Regions from separate parts of the Homo sapiens genome. Here region 1 is linked to region 2. Evidence: fine-mapped expression QTL. A gene starts in region 2. The other region holds a variant in brackets. All regions are shown on one strand. Distances are from middle to middle. Region 1 has its middle 20 kb from the start of XKRX. Region 2 holds the start of DRP2 (dystrophin related protein 2).

What was found. PIP is the estimated chance that this variant, and not a neighbour inherited with it, causes the effect.
Region 1: its variant is the best candidate, but not a certain one, in a credible set for the expression of DRP2 in fetal neocortex (Walker 2019, PIP 0.68).

Annotation. Positions count from the first base shown.
Region 1 is chrX:100,947,693-100,950,604 of GRCh38, forward strand. It overlaps a transcript of XKRX not described here. Among named protein-coding and RNA genes, the nearest start is that of XKRX, 20 kb to the left of the region's middle. The variant A/ATTTT (reference allele first, on the strand shown) is at 1,689.
Region 2 is chrX:101,218,229-101,221,140 of GRCh38, forward strand. It overlaps DRP2 (dystrophin related protein 2), which reads left to right and starts at 1,558. Exons shown (of 24, transcript NM_001939.3): 1 at 1,558-1,918.

The DNA.
Region 1 (2,912 bases), 270 kb before region 2:
TTGGCATTTGAAAAACAGTCTTCTAAATAACCCTTGAGTTAAACAGAGAATCAAAACAGAAATTACAAACTGTAAAAATAATCAGCAGGAAAATCGGAACCCATCAAAACCTATACTATGCAGCTAAAGTGGTACTCATAAGAAAGTTGCAGCATTACATTCACTTATTTATTCCAATATATTCAAATGTATTTCAACTGATAATACATGAATTTTTTTTTTTTTTTGGAGACAGGGTCTGGCTCTTTTGCCCAGGCTGGAGTGCAGTGGCATGATCTTGGCTCATTGCAACCTCCTCCTCCTGGGCTCAATCCATCCTCTTACCTCAGCCTCCCAAGTAGCTGGGACTACAAGCACAAGCCACCACGCCCAGCTAATTTTTGTATTTTTTTTTTGGAGGGACAGGTTTCACCATGTTGCCCAGGCTGGTCTTCAACTCCTGAACTCAAGTGATCCAACCATCTCAGCCTACCAAATTGCTGGGATTACAGACGTGAGTGACCACGACCAGCCAATACATGAATTATTTTCATTGACAATAAATGCACTAAACAGTCACCTCAAAAATACAGGTAAGTAACAAAATAGCATAACCAAAGAAAGTAGAAAGAAAGAATTAAGTATCTTTTTAAAAAAATCAATGACCCATTTCTCACTACTCCTCCCTCTTAAAATAAAACAGAAAACCTTGATGTAAAAACAATCAAGCATGGGAAGACTTTGAAAGGTGGAAAGGACAAGGTGGATTACCTAGAGACCTTAGGACCTAAAGAACACTACACTAATGAGCTGTCTACCATAAATCCCAGATGGGGCGCTGGAGAAGCCTGCAACCTGAAACTGCCAATAGGCCCAGACCCAAAAAAAGAGCCCCTTTCTGTTTCCTTTAGTTAAATGACTAGGAAAAGGGTGGCCTAGCAGAAGAGAAAATCTTTTTGATAATATCCACTCTACCCTAATCAAACATCAAAGGAAAATTTCCCCCTTCCCTGTGGTGTCAGCTGTGCCAAACAGAGATACCCATGTCTGCCTCCACATGGCAGCAGTTAGGCAGGGCAACTAGGCCCTGCGCCTCCCCCACAGGGGTGGTATCAGCAGGACCAAACAGGAGTGAACTTCCACCCTATCTCCCCAGTAGCAAAGAGGTGGAACCAGGCTATGAGAAGTGGTGCTAGATGGCCCTCCAGTTTCCCCACTGGGGTAGTATTAGTGGGGCCATCCCTACCTGACAGCAATGAGTTGGTGCAAGTCATCCCTCCATTCCGCATTCCCCCACCTGGAAGGGGTCTGGCAGTGAGGTGAACTTCCCTCCTTCCCCACAGTGCCAACAAGGTAGAACAAAACAGTGTGGCAGTATTCTGCTTCTCTCTAATCCCTGTGTCAGTCGACAAGGCCCGACAGGGAGCAGAACTTACAATCTCACCCAGCAGCAACAAAGTGATGTGAGTCAGTTCTATGCTTTTGCCAGGGAGGTATCTGCAAGGCTGAGTGGGGAACTAAACTTTCACTTCCATCCATTGGCAACAAGATGGGGCAAGGTGCTTCACTTTTGCCAGTGTCAGCAGGGTCCAGCAGAAAGCTGTATATCCACTCCAACACAGACCTGCACACCACATTTAACCCAGGGTGACTGCCTGCAAAAAAGGAAAAAGAAACAGGATGTTTTTGGTTGTTTTTTTTTTTTTTTG[A/ATTTT]GAGAGACGGAGTCTTGCTCTGTCGCCCAGGCAGGAGTAGAGTGGTGCAATCTCAGCTCACTGCAACCTCTGCCTTCCTGGTTCAAGTGATTCTCCTGCCTCAGTTTCCCAAGTAGCTGGGACTATAAGGCGTGCACCACCATGCCCAGCTAATTTTTGTATTTTTAGTAGGACGGGGTTTCACTAGATGTTGGCCAGGCTGGTCTCAAACTCCTGACCTCAGGTGATCTGCCCACCTCGGCCTCCCAAAGTGCTGGGATTACAGGCATGAGCCACCATGCCCAGCCAGAAATAAGATGTTTAGTCTCACAACACAATACCTAAAATGTCAAAAATACAATAGAAAATCACTTATACCAAGAATCAGAAAAATCTCAATATGAATGAGAAAATAAAATCCACAGACTCCAGTGCTGAGCTGACACAGATGTTGGAATGATCTGACAAGGATTTTAAAGCAATCATTATAAAAATGCTTCAACAAGCAATTTAAAGTATGCTTGAAACAAATGAAAAGAAGTCTCAGCAAAGAAACAGAACATATAAAAAAGAACCAAATGAAAATTTTAGAATTAAAAAATAAAACAATAAAAATTTTAAAACTCACTGGATGGGCTATAGCCGAATGAATATGACAGAAGAAAAAAATCAGTGAACTTGAATATAGAACAACAAAAATTACCCAATGTGAACAAGAGAGAAAACAGACTAAAAAGAAATGAACAGAGCCTCAGGGTCCTAAAGGACAATGAAGAAAAACAGAACATTCGTATCACTGGAGTTCCAGCAGAAAAATAGAAAGACTAGGGGGCTGAAAAAGTTCTGAAAAAATAATAGCTGAAAACTTCCCAAAGGTTAAAATGTTGACAGTAGAAGACTGTGGTAAATTACTTATGTATAATGCAATAATTAGAACAACCACTTAAATATCCATATAAAATATATATTCATAACCTATATAAATAAATGAAAATGGAATTATATGCACCAAACAACAGACTGCAAAATACATGAAGCAAAAACTAATAGATAGGAAAGTGCAAATAGATAAGTCCACAATTGTATTTAAAACTTGTAACATTTCTCTCTCAACAAATAACAGATCAAAATCAAAAAGGATATAGAAGGACTGAACACCACCATCAACCATCAAGGTCTAATTGACATTTACAGAATATTTCACCCACCAACAGCAGAGCAGATGTTCTTTTAAAGAGCACATGG
Region 2 (2,912 bases):
TGCTACAAAAAAAATGATAAGTTGGTGGGATGATGAATATGTTAATTGGCTGGGCTGAATTTTTCTGCATAGTATACATAGATCAAAACATCACGCTGGAGCCCATAAATATATACAATTATTATTTGTCAATTAAAAATAAATAATAAAAATACTTCATAAAAAAATCACATAATAATTTTAAAATGGAACTGAAAAAAAACAGTAATTCTGGGTCCTTTAGACACTTTGTAAACACTAGTCCTAGATCCTATGTAAATACTAGTCCTAGATCCTATGTAAATACTAGTCCTAGGAAGTATTTTCTTTCTTTCTTTCTTTCTTTTTTTCTTTTTTTTGAGACAGAGTCTTGCTCTGTTACCCAGGTTGGGTGCAGTGGTGCGATCTTGGCTCACTGCAACCTCCACCTCCCAGGTTCAAGTGATTCTCCTGCCTCAGCCTCCTGAGTAGATGGGATTACAGGCGCACACCACCACGCCCAGCTAATTTTTGTATTTTTTTGGTAGAGACGGGGGTTTTACCATGTTGGTCAGGCTTGTCTCGAACTCCTGACCTTGTGATCCGCCTGCCTCGGCCTCCCAAAGTGTGGGATTATATAGGCGTGAGCCACCACGCCCGACCCTAGGAAGTATTTTCTAAGTTCCAGTGCCATCAGAGCTTATAAAATTTTTAGAGGCAAATCAGTGAACTTAAGCAACCCACTCCCAACCAGTCTTTGTCTCTCTCCATATACACCCTGTTCCCAGAGATGGAGGGAGGAAAGAAGAAAGCTGCTTTTATCCTTTGCTGTGGCCTGGGACTGCTGGGGCTTTAAATCTTTGTATGTTTGTGTAGGAGGGTGAGGATGGGGACTTTCTGACTGCTATTCATCCACCTATTCATTCAATTTACTCATTCAACATATATTTATTAAGTAACCTACTGTGTGCTGGGCACTTGGTAAAGGGATATAATCTTATCTATCCTGCCAGTGGCTTCTCCCAGGTCTCTGAGGGTGTTTGGAGCTCATACCCTCTTCTCTTTAACAAGCGTGACAGTTAAAAGAGTAAGGGCTGGTATGGACAAAAGCAGGAAGGTGCCTGGGGTAGTAGTCATTGAGGTGAGTCATGGAGGAGCTGTATTTTCCTGAATTATTCAAGATCCATTTTGTTTCCCCAATTTGTTGAGGCTTTTTCTACACGTGAGATCTAAGAGGGTGTGAGGATGAGACTTAGGGGTGACTGGCAGACTGTCCTGAGCCCAAAACTGTACCTTGAGTACCAGTGATGATTCCAGACCACAGTGTTTCAACCCTCAACACAGAAGCAGAATCCTGGACTGGCTACCGAGGGGCCCCTGCCAGCTGCTGGCTCCAAAGTTGGTTTTGTCTGTGGGCTAGATCGGTGTAAGTTGGGGTCCAGGCTGCTCGCTCAGCAGCCTGATTGATCTCCAGGGCTCTTTTGTCTCCTCCTCCCCAGTGGAAGCCTCTCCCCCTCTTCCCCTCTCCCCCTCTCCCCCTCTCTCCCTCTTCCCCCTCTCCTTGTCTCCTTCTCTCCCCCTCTGCTTCTCAGGCTCTTCCGCTTTCCTCCTCTGCTTCTAATGAATTGACATCTCCAAGAGCCGCCACATCTCTGGTAGTTTTACAAAACTGTCCTTGCTCTTCCTGCGTTTGCCCAGTCAAGGGTATTTTTGCCTGAGGTCGGAATGATGCTGTTAGTCCTGGTGATATGATTGCATAGCAACACAGAGCAGCTCTGAGAGGGGAGGAGGAGGAGAAGAAGGAAGACAGGGAAGTGGGAGAGACAGAGGGAGAGTGTGCATACAGCAGCTGTCGGCATCCCTGTCTCAGGGACTTCTTTGCTGATTCACAGAGGCAGCCCAGCCCCGGCCTCCCAGCTTACAGCTGCCGCCTGCTTCTCAGACCTGACGGAATCAGAAGGTAGGCCACAGAAAAATTATTTCCAAGCCTTGGCCTTGTTCAGCTGGCTGAGGGGAAATGACTGAGGGAGGGGAAGCTCCAGAGGTACTGTGTGGCGGGCGAGGGGTGGGGGGAGAGAGGGAAAATGAGTGTGTGTGTGCGTGTGTGTGTGTGTGTGTGTGTGTGTGTACGCGTGCCTGCCTGCGGTCTGCTTGCATGTGCCTTTAGTGGAAAACTTGCATTTAAAAATGCCCACAATAAAGTAGTCACCATTTAGATTCATAAAGAAAAAAAAAAAGATGCCCAAGAATAGAAACTCAAGCCGATTTGAGCAACTAAGGTCTAAAAATGAATAAGAAGGAGGTACACAGTTTGCTTCTTTGAGAAAAGAGGGGCATTTATTTATTTTAGGTTCTCAATAGCATGCTTTTTGTCCAAGGGTATACTTCTTGGCAGGAGGGAAGCAAAGGTGTGTGGAAAGCCTTGGCTAACAAGGGAGGAGAGAGGAAACATGGGACCTTGGAGCAGGTTCCCTGAACAAATGAGTATTCTGGCCAGCAGACAGGACACAGGAGTTCTTTGCTGAAGTAAACCAGGCTCTGACCTAAGAGCCTGGAGCTGAAGGGCTCATCTCATCTCTGTATTTACTTCCTGGCTCTGTTGTTTTTCCTGTGACATTTTTCCCCCTTATCTTCTCCCCTGGTTTCCTTTCTACACCCTGTAATCAGGAGGCATCTTTCCACTCTTGAAAGCATAGCTTGGAGTGGTTTCAAATAGGGCTTGCTTCTCTTGGAGTCCAACACCCTATCACCTTCTGCTCTCACCACCTTTCCCAGCATCGGACCAAGTGCCCCAGCCTAGTAAGTGGGCCTGAGACTATATGGGTAGTTAATGTTTATCCTTCCTTTGGTAGGCAGGTCGAGCCAGGCCTCACAGGTGTTGGGTCTAAGCAGGTGGCAAGGCTGGGCTGGGGTGGGGTGGAGTGGGGTAGAGGAGAACGTCAGCAGCAGCTGCT